Linked DNA regions of Homo sapiens. The protein of the gene in region 1 interacts with the protein of each later gene in a pairwise test. Each region holds a gene or a part of one and is shown on either strand. Other genes may lie near its edges.

The links. Proteins that work in one complex are often made in the same cells at the same time.
Region 2: the proteins of BRAP (region 1) and ZNF521 interact in a two-hybrid assay, tested with the Homo sapiens proteins (one study listed by BioGRID and IntAct).

Annotation. Positions count from the first base shown.
Region 1 is NC_000012.12:111,674,675-111,682,956, forward strand, and holds part of BRAP (BRCA1-associated protein), read right to left. Parts: intron 7,162-8,282; coding exon 6,963-7,161; intron 4,667-6,962; coding exon 4,477-4,666; intron 1-4,476. UniProt on the Homo sapiens protein: Negatively regulates MAP kinase activation by limiting the formation of Raf/MEK complexes probably by inactivation of the KSR1 scaffold protein.
Region 2 is NC_000018.10:25,342,167-25,349,806, forward strand, and holds part of ZNF521 (zinc finger protein 521), read right to left. Parts: intron 3,182-7,640; exon of another isoform or gene 3,086-3,181; intron 1-3,085. UniProt on the Homo sapiens protein: Transcription factor that can both act as an activator or a repressor depending on the context. Involved in BMP signaling and in the regulation of the immature compartment of the hematopoietic system.

The sequences.
Region 1 (8,282 bases):
CCGTGTATTGAGCATAGTGCATTACAATTTGAAAATGTTTAAAGCCAGCTGTTGGAGAAGAAGCCTCTTTAATACTAAGAGGTTACAACCTAATATGGCTTCCCCCATTCTTCAGGAGCAACGGTTTCTTGAAATGCTTTTGGCTAAGTAAGCAGCAAAGTCAGCACATGGATTCACCAGGAGAAAACGGACTGCCTGAAAGTCAGGGCCTTCTCTCACCTCTTCAGAGCCTCAGGCACCACCAGTGGCTGGTAGAGCCCTCTTGGGGTCTAGAGCTCTGCAAATGCTCACTAAACGACCAGCCTCCTCTACAGGAAAGGATAAGGCATGTGACCAAAACCATTCAATGAATTATTCCTTTCTGCTACCTGAGCCCAGGAGTTTGAGACCAGCCTGGGCAACGTGGCGAAACCCCATCTGTACAAAAAATACAAAAATTAGCCGGGCATGGGGGTGGAAGCCTGTAGTCCCAGCTATTTGGGAGGCTGAGGTGGGAGGATAGCTTGAGCCCAGGAGGTGAAAGCTGCAGTGAGCCGAGATCGTGCCACTGCAGTCCAGCCTGTGCAGCAGAGTGAGACCTTGTCTCCAAAAAAAATAAAATAAAATAAAAAAGGAGAAGAAGCATGTAGGTGAGTTGTCATGGTGGCCTACACTAGGATGATTGTGGCAGAAATGAAAAAAGTAAAAAGAAAAAGTACTTTTTTGTAATGACAACATCACTAAACAGCTGAGATTTCCCAATTAACATATTGATCTCTTCTTTAAAATCTTGGTATTAGAAATGCACCTTCACCTGTTCACATATTTTCTGAGCATCTAGTATGTGCCAGGCCCTGTGCTATGTACTAGGTAGAGAGTAGGGAACAAACTACACATGGTTCCTACTTCAACTCACCATCTAAATGCACTAAACAAAAGCCTGAAGCTAACTGCCAAGAACATTGCAGAAACAGCTTTTATTGAAAATGTTTGCATTGTGTGGACCCAAAACTTTAAATAAACCTGGCTTTTGTTTCCCTCTAGTCCTTTGGTTTTATTGTTCTCTTCTGAGGATTAACTCAGAAAAAGACAAATCCATTATGATCAAGTTCCTTCGCTGTCACAGGAATCAACTACAGTGTTGAGAACATACCTCTACTTCTCCAAGGAGGTGTCTGCTAAGGCTGTGGTAACTAAGCACGCAGGTGAAAAAAGCCAACATACTCTATTAAGTGGTCATCTGTCCTTTTCTGCCCCCAAGAACAACAAAATTGAACTTCCTTCTGCTTTTCCTATGTCCTGAAGAACTGTAAATTCTCTACCCAAAGACCAAGTTTCCTAAGGGTCACACTACAAATTGGTAAGCACACCCCCCCTTTTTTTTTGATCTTTTAAAAAAAATTTTTAAGAAACAGGATCTTGCCATGTTGCCCAGGCTGGTCTTGAACCCCTGGCCTTAAGCAATACTCCTGTCTTGGCCTCCCAAGGTGTTGGGATTACAGACATGAGCCACCACACCTGGCCTCACAACTCTTTCAGCTAAAGCTAAGGCCAACAGAAATTCAAAAATTACCAAAGATAAAGAGAAGGCTTATAAGTCCTTATTTAAAAATCTGTGGTGAGGAAAAGAATAAAAACATAGTTAGGTGCCCAGGCTATGGAGTCAGGCTGCCTAGGTTTGAACCCTAACTCTGACACCTACTAGCTGTTTGGCTGCAGGCAAGTGACTTATCTGTGCCTGTTTCCTCAACTGTAAAATACATGGCATTTTTTTTTTTGAGACAGAGTCTCGCTCTGTTGCCCAGGCTGGAGTACAGTGGTGTGATCTTGACTCACTGCAACCTCCACATCCCAGGTTCAATAGTTTCTCCTGCCTCAGCCTTTCAAGTGGCTGAGATTACAGGCGTGCGCCACCACATCCAGCTAAGTTTTATATTTTTAGTAGACATAAGCTTTTACCATGTTGGCCAGGCTGGTCTCAAACCACTGCCCTCAAGTGTTCCGCCCACCTTGGTCTCTCCCAAAGTGCTGGGATTAAAGGCATGAGGCACTGCACCTGGCCAACATGGCATCGTTGAGAGGATTCAAGGAGACAATGCATGGAAAGCACTTGGCACAGGGTCCGGTCTCTAGTAAGTGCTTCAGAGTTGGTAGCTACTGAGCCTATTATTCTCACTACAGCCGATATTAGTTTAACTTCCAGTCTTACACCAAGAGGGTATTATTAGGTATTAGAAAATCCCTGTTAGGATGATAGGGATTAGCCCCTAAGACCCAGAGTTAGCAATAAATAATACAACTCATGATACCAAGATAAAGGGTTCTAGCCCCATGGGGAAGAGCATGCAGCAACCTGTTTCGCAGTCTCAGAAAAACATGTCAACTTGAGCAACCTTCACTTGATCAAAAGACACAAGGGGAAGGATAGTGCAGATGTACAAGGAAAATTCATTCACAGTAAATATCCACAGTACTACCTGCACATTATGAAGGGCAGTACTTGTTATAGGGAACTGTGTGGGTTTATTAAACAGGTGACTGTGGTGGATTTATACGACTTCAGACTATTTCAAAAGCCTGAGTGCTCTTCAACATTTTTTTCCCAATCTATTTCTGGGTCTTTTCCTTTGTTACTTGCTTATTGCCCTAGTTGTTAAGTAGAAACTGTAACAATACTGCTGTCATAGAATGTCTCACAAACAACCGCCTCCCTTCCCCACACCTTCATCCCACTCCTACTAGAAGAGGAACGCGTCCCTGGAATTAAAAGTGAGGGTGCCACACTCTTGCTTGTCATTTATGTCTAGCTATGTAACCTTGGGCAAACCATGTATCTCCCTCTGCAGTCACCCTCCTCATCTGTAAAACAAAGATAACAACACAGTTTCCGCAAGGGATTGTAGTGAGGATTAAATGAGACAAAGTGTATTGAACACTTAGCACAGTGAGTGATACAGAAGCCATCGATAAACGTTGGATATTATCATCATTATCCTTATTATTACATGTGCTACCAGACTGAAATGGCTTAAGGCACGATTTTCCCATGGTTTGCAAAGCTCCTTGGCACCCTTGGAAGGCTTTCTGATGGACAGTGAAAGGAGCTATTCAAGTGCTTTTCTGTTCTTAATGTCAACTTGTAAACTTTAAATCCAAAGGATAATTGAAACCTTTTAAATGTCTCCCTAAATGATGGGGTACTTTGTAAACAGAAAACATAATAACTGTGTACTCTCTTGCAGACAGAACTCCACACTAAAGCTTCTCTCTGGAGATCACAGAACAGGTACACTCTTCCCCCACTAAAAAGAGAATGAGGCCGGGTGCAGTCGCTCACGCCTGTAATCCCAGCACTTTGGGAGGCTGGGGCGGGCAGATCACCTGAGGTCCAGAGTTTGAGACCAGCCTGACCAACATGGAGAAACTCCGCCTCTACTGAAAATACAAAATTAGCCAGGCATGGTGGTGCATGCCTATAATCCCAGCTACTCCGGAGGCTGAGGCAGAATGGCTTGAACCCAGGAGGTGGAGGTTGCTGTGAGCTGAGATCGTGCCATTGCACTCCAGCCTGGGCAACAAGAGTGAAACTCCGTCTCAAAAAAAAAAAAAAAAAAAATGAAAGAAGTGGGGGTAATGGAAAAATAATAAGATGGTGTTAACTTCAAAAAGTCTGGGAACCACCGCTTTTCTGGAATAGTTACCGCTTGTTTAAAAAAACAAACAGGCCGGGCATGATGGCTCACGCCTGTAATCCTAGCACTTTGGGAGACTGAGGCGGGTGGATCACAAGGTCAGGAGTTCGAGACCAGCCTGGCCAACATAGTGAAACTCTGTCTGCACTAAAAATACAAAAATTAGCCAGGCATGGTGGTGCATGCCTGTAGTCCCAGCTACTCAGGAGGTTGAGGCAGGAAAATCGCTTGAACCCGGGAGGCGGAGGTTGCAGTGAGCCGATACCACACCACTGCACTCCAGCCTGGGCGACAGAGCGAGAATTCGTCTCAAAAAGAAACAAACAAAAAAACACACTAGATTTTTTTTTTTTTTTTTTTTGAGACGGAGTCTCACTCTTGCCACCCAGGCTGGAGTGCAGTGGTGTGATGTCAGCTTTCTGCAACCTCTGCCTCCTTGCAAAACCCTAAACTTCATACTCAATCTGATCTATAAAAAATCATGGGCATGAGGCCAGGTGCAGTGGCTCAGAGCATCTGTAATCCTAGCACTTTGGGAGGCCAAGGCAGGAGGATTGCTTGAGGCCAAGAGTAGCCTGGAAAACACAGCAAGATCTCATCTCTACCGAAAAAAAAAAAAGTGTATACGTTATAATTGTATTTCTGCTAATGAATTTAGAAATACATCTAGAATTACAATTATATCTTAGAAGACATCTCAAGAATCTTAAGTGCAAAATGTTGTAAATCACACACAGCTATCATACAGTTTGAATACCACAGTTTCTGTGGCAAAGAGATTTTTAATAAATTTAATAACTTTTACCTGTGCACGAAACTTTATCAGCACCATATATTGGTTGGGAGTAGAGTCTCTGATAATTTTCATTTGTTCAATTACTTCGTTAAATGGGGCAACAAACTTCATAAGGTCATGACTGGTCATTGCAGCAGGGACTGTGAGAATACACAGCATGGCACTGCGCCGCACATCTTCTTTTAAGGAGGTCATCTTACTAACAAAAAAAAAATTAGAGTGTCTTGAATAGATGAGGTATGGTTAGTTTAAACAATACTAGACAACTTTTATGTCCAAGAAAACAGGAAAAAATAAAAATTGTAATATTTCATTAATGAACTGTTCTATATTATACCCCCCATTGGACTTTTTAATCTTCAGTTCAACATTTATTACGGTTATAAATCTGCATTCGGTAAATTTGCAGTGTTTTACTCTCATCAATGTTTGAATAATAATCTGTCACTGGTGGCCAGGCACAGTAGCTCATGCTCGTAATCCCAGCACTTTGGCAGGCCGAGGCGGGTGGATCACGAGGTCAGGAGATCGAGACCATCCTGGCTAACACGGTGAAACCCCATCTCTACTAAAAATACAAAAAAAATTAGCCGGGCATGGTGGCAGGTGCTTGTAGTCCCAGCTACTTGGGAGGCTGAGGCAGGAGAATGGTGTGAACCTGGGAGGCAGAGCTTGCAGTGAGCCAATATCGCGCCATTGCACTCCAGCCTGGGCCACAGAGCAAGACTCCATCTCAAAAAAAAAAAAAAAAAAAAAAATCTGTCACTGGTTAACTTAAAAGCACAACTCTGGCTATGGACCTCTCTTAAAAGGCCTAAAAAAACAGCTCTAAATATACGAGAGAATTCTGTCTTTTTTTTTTTCAGAGTCTTGCTGCATGGTCTCGGCTCACTGCAACCTCTGACTCCTGGGTTCAAGCAATTCTCCTGCTCAGCCTCCCAAGTAGCTGGGATTACAGACGCGTGCCACCACGCCGGGCTAATTTTTGTATTTTTAGTAGAGATGGGGTTTCACTATGTTGGCCAGGCTGGTTTCGAACTCCTGACCTCGTGATCCCCCGCCTCGGCCTCCCAAAGTACTGGGATTACAGGCGTGAGCCACCACGCCCGGCAAGAGAGAATTCTAAACCATGAGGATGTAACTGAGGATTACAGGAAGTGTTACCAAGTTGAGATGGCTGGAATAGAGAGGAAAGAAAATCCTCCCACAATGCAATTTGTTTTTTGAAATGCTGCAAACTCACTTGACAGCTGTGATCCAGAATGGCTACCTGTGCCGGGTGCAGTGACTCACACCTGTAATCCCAACACTTTGGGAGGCTGAGGTGGGCTGATCACTTGAGGTTAGGAGTTCGAGACCAGCCTAGCCAACATGATGAAACCCCATCTCTGCCAAAAAAAAAAAAAAAATTAACTGGGCGTGGTGGTGTGCACCTGTGGTCCCAGCTACTCTGAGGCAGGAGAATTGCTTGAACCCGGGAGGGGAGGTTGCAGTGAGCCAGGATTGCACCACTGCACTCCAGCCTGAGTTATGGAGTGAGACCCTGTCTCAAAAAAAAACAAAACAAAAAACAAAACAAAAAACAAAACAAAAAACAAAATGGCTACCTGAATAGTCACTGTTTTCCCAGTAGAGATCTGGCAAATGAGTTAGCACAAGAACAGCCTTAAGGTATCAGCTACCATTACCCAAGAAGGTAGTGGCTGGGCTTGTGGATTATCTAGCCAAATGCTTCCTTTCCTTGGGGCTCTAGCAAGCTTTGTTTGAACCACAGAAAATGGTAAAAAAGAGGTAATAAAATTGTAATGAGTTAACTGACTTCTTAGCAGCCTCTTCAGTAAAGATTTGGTGGGGACATGAGACTACAAAGATGCTGTGGATCATTTTCTTTGTCCTTTCAATTCCCCATCACCTTCCATGCCTATCTGCTAAGAAAACATTTTCCTGGCAGGGCGCAGTGGCTCACGCCTGTAATCCCAGCACTTTGGGAGGCTGAGGCGGGCGGATAACCTGAGGTCGGAGTTCAAGACCAGCCTGGCCAACAGGGTGAAACCCCATCTCTACTAAAAATACAAAAAATTAGCTAGGTGTGGTGGTGGGCACCTGTAATCCCAGCTACTTGGGAGGCTGAGGAAGGAGAATCACTTGAACTCAGGAGGCAGAAGATGCAGTGATCTGAGATCGCGCCATTGCACTCCAGCCTGGGCAACGAGACCGAAACTCCATTTCAAAAAAAAAAAAAGAAAACATTTTTCCCACATATTCTCTTAAGTGTATCCACAAGCATTTCTTTTATAAGGAAAAGCTTTGACCCAATCCACAAGATTAATCAAATGTAAAACATCTGAGAATTCTCTAACATACAACAGACAAAAGTATTATTATTTTGAAGCTTAAAATACCCACTTTCCTTCAGGACAAGAGACTATGCTAAAGCAAAGCAAAAAAAAAAAAAAAAAAATTGACTAACCCCCAAGAAAAGAGGGTTTTCTTACTTTGTCTTATATAGGTGCATAATACCATGAACTATTTCAACTGATGGATTTCCACTGAAGAATGAAATCTGGTCTGGAAGCTGTTTGGACGGAGAATCTGGGGCAGCGTTTATGCATTCCTTACTGTGATCTTTACTTCTTTGCGCAGTGGGGGAGGCTTCTGAAGACTTCCTTTCTTCCACTGTAGTTTTTAGTTCATCTTTCACCAGTTAAAAAATAGCAGATTATAAATGGATAGGACATATGCTGAAGGATTTGAACTAGATTAAAATTTCAAGTCAGAGGAATAAACTTTGATAGAGTAATTACAATGTAATGCATTAACAGCTATTATTTGTAGAATAGCTGAGTTTATGAGGGCATCATACTTTAAAGCTCTCTTTGCTCCATAAAAATCTCATTAACACCCTCAGAAACTTAAGGATGGCTATTACATTTGGCAATACCATAATGCAAGCAGGTATCTTCTATCACGAAATCCTAACTGGGACAAACATTCAGGGCTACTAAGGTGGAAATCCAAACCTACCAGTTCTGACCACCTCCATGTTGGAGATGTAGTACTATCTACACATCCACTTCCGCAGATAAAATGAGCTGGCTGGCCGGGTGCAGTGGCTCATGCCTGTAATCCCAGCACTTTGGGAGGTCAAGAGGTTGAGACCATCCTGGCTCACATGGTGAAACCCTGTCTCTACCAAAAATACAAAAATTAGCTGGGTGTAGTAGCGTGCACCTGTAGTCCCAGCTACTTGGGAGGCTGAGAGAGGAAGGAGAATTGCTTGAAACCAGGAGGTGGAGTTGCAGTAAGCCGAGATCATGCCACTGCACTCCCACCTGGGGACAAAGTGAGACTGTCTCAAAAAAAAAAAAAAAAAAAAAGAAAAGAAAGAAAGAAAAAATGAGCTGGCAGAGCAGGGGAAGGCACGACATGTTTATTTGGACACATTAATGATCTGCCACTGAACTAGGTGGTAAGAAATTCTCCCTGGTAGCCGGGTGTGGTGGCTCACACCTGTAATTCCAGCACTTTGGGAGGCCGAGGCAGGTGGATCACTTGAGACCAGGAGTATGAGACCAGCCTGGCTAACATGGAGAAACCTTGTCTCTACTGAAAATACAAAAATTACCCAGGCGTGGTAGAGGGCATCTGTAATCCCAGCTACTTGGGAGGCTGAGGCAGGAAGACTGCTTCAGCCCAGGAGGCTGAGGTTGTAATGACCCGACATTGCACCACTGCACTCTAGCCTGGGCAACAGAGACCCTGCCTCAAAAAAAAAAGTCCCCCCCGTCACTGAACTGAATTGTCAACTCCAACTG
Region 2 (7,640 bases), on another chromosome or scaffold:
CTCTTTCCAGGAATTAATATGCACTCCCTTGAGCCCACAGTTCTTCTTAACCCTTGCCTCATGTCTGCAAAACATCATACAACTTTGCAAGTTGCACACTGACAACCCCAAACCCCCCTATGTATAGGAACTTCAGACTCCATACATCAGCATTCAAGCAATGATTCTGTTTTGGCTTCATTAGTACTTGGTAGATCAATGTTTGTGAAGACTTTACAGCCTTTTTCCTTTTCTTTCCTTTGTTTTTTTTTTGTTTGTTTGTTTGTTTTTTTTGAGACAGAGTCTCGCTCTGTCGCCCAGGCTGGAGCCCGGAGTGCAGTGGAGCCATCTTGGCTCACTGAAAGCTCCGCCTCCCAGGTTCCCGCCATTCTCCTGCCTCAGCCTCCCAAGTAGCTGGGACTACAGGCGCCCGTCACCACGCCCGGCTAATTTTTTGTATTTTTAGTAGAGACGGGGTTTCACCGTGTTAGCCAGGATGGTCTCGATCTCCTGACCTCGTGATCCGCCCGCCTCGGCCTCCCAAAGTGCTGGGATTACAGGCGTGAGCCACCGCGCCTGGCCTTCTTTTTCTTAATGTATAAAAGTAATCAATGAAAGACAAAAGGTGCTGATAGTGGTAATAAAAAGCATATGTCTGATAAACTTAACACAACTAAGACAACCTAAATCATTAGGAATGCTGAAAGCAATTAATATGTAGTCTTATTCAAGCACTAACTGGACCTAATCTGGCTCTATTGTGAAAGATAAGAATATTAGCTAAGAACACGTATGAAATGCTGGAAATTGTTTCTTGAAGTCAATATAAAGTTTAAAGCACAGTGATATTTTTTAGATTCCAGGTCACAGAAACTCCTATAATATGGCAAGTTATAGTTTACTGTGTGGACTGTTCACCTCACTACAGGTTTCAACAAATGTATTTTGTATGAATATATGGAACTGTCTGTAATCAATGAGGATTTTGTCCCTATCAGGTAAATAAGTTTCCATCTTGACATATCATATCCTTCACAGTATACTGATGGGATAATAAATTTTGAGAAAAAGCCAATCATAAGATGGAAAGAGAAGGTAATAAAGTCAGTGAAATAATGAGACTCAATGATACGCTGATTTTAATTTCAAAAAGGAAATCTTATTCTTTGACACCAATTTTAATTGGAAAAAAATCCAATTTTTCCCTTAAAACATTATTAACACTTATATGGACTTACTAAACAAAGTGCATTTCCTACAGAAGGTTTAGAGTATGTTTCCGTGTATATAGACTATGTATGTGTGTGTCACAATATGTTGTGATAACTGAGGGACGTAAACTCTTGGGTTTCACATATACAAAAAAATTATCATAACCAAAATATTGAAATATAAATCCAACAAACTGCACTATTATGAAAACAAATATTCTGAATGTCAATCACTTGACCTTGCTCAGATTGGGAGAGCTATGATCATGCGGGAATAGTATATATGCTTTCCAAACCAAATCATCTTTATTTAAAAATAAGATTCAAAATGAACACGTACCTAACACATACACACATAAAAATGACAGGCATACACATTTTTTTTCTTTTCAGGATTTTTCAAAGCATTTACTATCCCATAGAATTAAAAGAGATGCTGCCCCAAAATAATAATTTTTAAACTTAATCTTTTTTTAAAAAGTGTTCTAAGAAAGGGGAGTTTTTACACAGTCATATTGGAATCTAAATTTGTTTAATGACCAAATTATAAACCTCTGCAATCTGACAACTAGAGTAGAAATACTAACTATAGTATGTGCTGCCATAATAATGATACCCACAAGATCAGCCCAGTGCTTGTAGCTGTGGCAGGGTCCCCAGGCAGCAGGATAACTGCTGCTTGATCATTATCCCTGCTAAAACTGAAGCTACTGAAGTTTTAAAGAATTCATATCTTACTGAATTTCTTTCATCTCTAATAATTACTAAACTGGCATAATTACTTATACTAGAGGTGGAATGTGATGCATGCTAAAAGCCCAAGGTGCCTAAAATTAAAGTTTTTTATTAAAAAAAAAAAAAAAGCTGCGATTCTACTTAGTTTTCAGAGATTTATCTTGTGTCGGGCTTTTTATGCCAGGAGTTGCATAATTATTTAAACCATTTAAAAGCTTTCCTTACACTATTTGATTAATACTATAACAGAGCTATTTAAATTTACTAATGTTAACTTTAATGTTTAAGTTTTAATTGCTTTGTAATAACACTGTTGCAGAACATATTTTAAATCAGACAAGTACGCTTTCACTACAACAAACAAGGTATATGCAATCCTAGCACCATGTAGTCCCCAAACAAAAAACAGGAACATTTCAGATTTAATTGAAATGGAATTAGAAAGTTGCATGCATCTCCCCCACCCCTAGAACTAACTTTAACCTTTGACAGCACAACAGGAGTCAATGAAGAAAAAAATTAAATACATCTGGGAAAATACTTAGCTACAGGTTTGACGTGGAATATCAGCCTTTGTATCAAAATCTCATTCAATTCAAAAGCATTCTTTCACATCTTACTTAATGATAATATTTACATTTTTAATGATGCAGACAGCTGCTAAAATAAACAAATACTGCAAGTCTTAAAATCACTTTCCCTCTTAAAATTAACTGAAAAACTGAACATAGTATCCATTAAATCCAGCCATGAGGAATGTATTCTGTGGCAACAGAATTAATGACAGTAAACCAGCAATGTGAATCCTGACAGATGAATTAATAAAACACATTAATAGGAAAAAGAGACCCTTAATAAAATTCTTAATTGATCTTAGTAGACCTACTCTTTTCTACTATCAAAACCTCTTTCTTCTTATTACATGCTTTTACATCAAAATGAAAACTCAAGCAAGTATACTTAATAATATGCTTCAACTTATGTCAACAAGTATTTAACTAGAATTTACCAGACTAACGAGCCCTCACAAACAGACTCCTTTAAAAATAGAGGGAGGCAGGTACAAATGTTCCTCTAAGGTGAAAAGAAATCTCCTACAAATATGCTACGAGTCTTGCACTAGACCAAATAAGCAAGTACAAAGAACTAAGTATAATTACCGGAAGCAAAAAGTTGAAAAATTCTGTCATCACTGTTAGACGTCACTGCTGTCAGTAAGGATAACTACAGTGGTTTTTAAAGGATATGGAAATACTCTGGCAAAACAAAAAAGAAAAATTATTAACAGCTTGCTTTATAAAAGGCTGCTTGCTAATCTCAAATCCCTTTGTAATTTCATTTTTACATGTATGCTTTTATGTTCAGTATCCTATTTTTTGTCCTTTTTTGGCTGGATGAATAAAAGACAACAATCCACTCATGCATAAAACAGATGTTTTTGTTTTTAAGGCCAAGTGGAATCTTATGAATTTGTGTGCCCTCACTTTAGGAAGATGCTGCCAGAAGTGCTGAAATCGTGAAACCGGCGTTTTGGAAGAGACTCACTGGACCATCAGTTCTGGAACTTTGACTAGCACTCATGGGATCCTTGCCAACTGTAATTGCTGTTTTTGTTTATGTCGGATTGTCTACTGATTGGACTATAATGAATTTAATGACTTCAACATCTAGTCAGTATAATTTAAAGGTGGTGGAGGGAAGAAACAGTCACTGGTTGATAGATAAATAGAAGAACATTTGCAAGTGTCTGAAGGAGTATGGATGTCAAACACTGTTTGAGCTTCTGCAGTGTTTCCAATAATCAGGCTTTTTAGCATACAAGTCCAAAAGTAAAGCATACATTTCTGTATGCCAATTAGTATTTTTGCCTGTACAATCATGAAAAAAAATCTCTCTCTCTAATTTGTGTGTGTATGTATCTTTTCTTATTTTTTAAAAAACTTACCTTAGGTTAAAATCTAATCATGAAAAAAGGGAGTCACAACCTATCTAAAAATAATTTTGAGGGAAAGCCATATTGCAATTCTTAAAAGCAAAGCACTGCACTGTCTTAAAACAATTACCTTTACACACAAACTTGGGGGCTTTTTTTTTCTAATTATGTCATCATTTCCAAAATCAAAACTCAATCTTTACTGATGAGGTTTTTTTTTGTCTAAGAAATGAAACATATGAAATATAAGAGAAACACTTTTTTTTTGGTTATACTTCACCTGTCTACCCGTAAGTATATATATTTTGACTTTGAACATAAGAGAAAAAAATGTGTTTAAATAAGGACTGCAGAGTTTAATGTTTCTATTAAATTTCAGGGCCAGTACAAGCTCCCTGAGGTGGCTTTTCTAACACCTACAATTTTTAGAGCTTTTCCACTAGAGAATACAGCCTAATACACAGGTTTTCTTACTTTCAAAAGGTTTCAGGCTTAAAATCCATTGCCTTTACATTCAAATTCTATAGTTTACATTTCTTCTTTAAATTGCAGACTAAGTTTTGCCACTCTATTACATTTCTAAATAAATTACTCTACTCAAAAATAAAATAAAATAAACCTTCCTAAGTACAAAAGAAGGTAAATGGGGGAAAGGTCAATCACAAGTGTGATAACTTCAAAATGTGCCAAGTTACAAAGGGTTAGCTACTGTGACGGCCAAGTTAAACAAGGCACTTCTGGGGCTCTCTTTCTCCCTGGTTCCCACCACTCCTCTCCAGAGGTCCCTGGTATGGGTTTATGAACACCTGAGGGTTCAGATATCCTAATTGTGTCTTGTGTTTAACTTGGCCATCTAAATGACTAAGTGCTCCCCTCTCTCCTTCCCAGCTTTATAACTTGGCTCTTACTGAATATATCACACCTTTATATAGTGGACCACTTTTTCCTTTTTACAGTGCTTTTTGGAGTAAATTTCAAAAAAAAATTGTTTGTTATTAGGTAAAATGGCCGAGAAACTTCCATCAGAGAGGCACCACAAGAAAGAGAATAAATAGCCAGCAAGAAAAATAGAAATAGGTCACAATTGACCAATTTGATGCAACTGATTTGCTGCCTCTAAAAATAAGCTGACAGGAGAACTATTTTGAGTCAGGTAATCTACTCAAGTACCATGTCTACTCTCAGGAATTGAGACAAATATCCAAATAATATAAATGGGGCAGAAAGAGTGACTCATTTAATTGTCTGTCCATCCATGCCTCTAATAACTGGCTTCAATTCTCTATTTCATTAAATAGAAGGGGTTATCCAGAAGATTCGTACCATAAGGACAGAATAAGTTTGTCAACTTTGTATGTGGGCTGATAGAATTTTGATGCTAGGGCTTTGAAAGGCAGGAGGGGTAAAGGAGTTCCATGTTTCAAAATATATTTCCAGCTTTTACAAATAGAAAAGTGAATCTTTTCGGTGTTTAACAGGTTTAATGTACTTTAGAGGAGGTAAGTAGACCAACCAGGACCTGCTCCACTGAAGCTAGAAATATGGTACCTACTCTCAGGAGATGGATTCTTAGGACAATTACACTGAAGTTTCCTACAAACAAAAAACCCAGCATACTTTTTCAAGTAAACATAATTATTCCTTCAGGGTACTAAATTATGAGAATTCACACAATAAATTCAACTGTTAATAGAAATGTCCTGGTAATCTGTATTTTTAAGCATTTGGTTGAAAATACAGACTCCAAACCTAACTGACATTGTGTCTTCATGTTTTTATCTGCCTTAGGTAAATGACTTTCCTGAGATACAAGTTTCAAATTATATCAAATTGACAGTCATGTCAGCAATATCTTTTACATCTTGTTGGTTAAAGTACTAGTATGCATGTAAGACAGAAGTTGGAAATTCAGTGCAGAACTTCATGTTTTATTTAGAAGGGCCTATTGCATTTTCATGGTTTCCAATGCCTCCTTCAAGTTGGCTATAATCTACATGGTTTTGAAATACTGTCACTCATCTAATAAAATCAGACTTTTTATCTTTTAATTGCAAACCTATTAATCAGTTATTCATAAATGAAGAAACACAACAGGACTGCCTTTCTATACCTGCTGATAGCAAAGTGTTGTTCACTGCATATTACTACTAATATGATACCAGAACACAGGTCATAATAACACCTCTCTGGCTTTTCTATGATCCAAGTGTGACCTTCTGAATGATATAATGGACAATCCGCATACTCAGAACACTCCTACAACACATTTTGAAAAATTGGAGACCCTTCCAAGAAGACATAGGGAAATCAAAATACTGAAGAGAAGGCTAGGTATTTAACAAGAGCCACCCAGAATGCCCTTCCTCTTCTTCAAAACCGCTACTAATATCAAAATGATTCGTTTGGTATAGCTCATCTACATATGAATTTTTCAAGGCATACCCTGAAGAAAAACAATCCGCTCTTCAGTGAGGACTGTACTATTTTTATTCCTGTCTTCAGCTTCTCATCCCCAAAAGCCCAGCCAGCCCACCTGAGGCCATTCGCTCTTTTGGGAGTTGTCCAAGCAGCTGATAGGAGAGAACAGCACTGTGTTCCGCGCCCACACAGAATATGGAAGCTAAATCTTTGTTTTTAGTGTAAATATTTTATTTAGAATTTAGCAGTTGAAACAGATGCTGTCTTTGTGGGGAAGATATTTGGATAATTTTGCAACATGACGATAAAAGAATAAAATGTCCTCTTTACTCATTCTTCACTTGCCATTTTTTGCTTATTAACCTAAGAACTGCACAGGTATTTTGCAGTTCGACTTATCAAACCTGCCCAGCGAATACCGTCAACTGACGGATTCCCTTTACTGCCCATAAAATCCTACGTGCATGAGAAGAAATCATCTTCAGGAAGCACTGGGAACAAACGCATTCACAGTCAACCAAACTTTCGCTGTAAATTCACTCCAAAAGCAGGTGAACCAAATGCTCAGAAGCTGCGAGTGAACAAAACTGCCAATCGTGCAAACTTTAATAAACTTTTTTTTTTTTGAAAAGAAAAATCCCTCCCAAATTCCTTCACGGGGTTTCAGAAGCTTCTTGGAGCCCTTTCCACCGGACAGGCACTAACCGCTATCCTACTTCAACTCGGAAAGTTCTTCTTTCCAAGTGACTAGGAAGAGGTTTGTCCTGGTACTTCGCTCAGCGTTACTTTCAAGAAAGCCGGGGTCTCGGGCAAGTCTCGCCGGCGCGAGCCTGGTCCACCGTTACCCTGACACCCGCGCACGCCCGTGGCGTTTCTTTTTTCACTGTCGACACTTGGATCTTTCAGGCCCTGGGTCTAGGTTTCCCCCAGAAAAATGAGGGGCCCATGTGACGGAAACCACCAGACACACTGTGTGGAGACACATGCCAATGATTCACCTCGTTCCCGAACTAAAACTTCTGCGCTTTAGGAAAAAAGCAAGCGTTCCAATCTGCGAGGCCCTCCCCCACCCCGTCCCTTCCCAGGAGAAGAAAGAAAGGGCTTTGTGTGTGCGGTGAGGGCTCCGTTCATCGAGTTCAAAAATGCACAGCGGCCGGGGGCCGGGAGGCGTGGGGCGCCGGGCCCTGCCCACCCCTTTTCCCCGGGCCGGCGGCGAGTCGGGAAGCTGGTGCGGGAACCGGGGCCACGGGGCGCCGCGGCCCGGCAGCCAGGAGGAAGAGGATGCTGCGCCGCCGGGGACCAGAGGGCGGGGCCGGGCCGCGCGGACCTCGGCGGGACCCAGCGGGCCCGGGCGGGCGCACCAG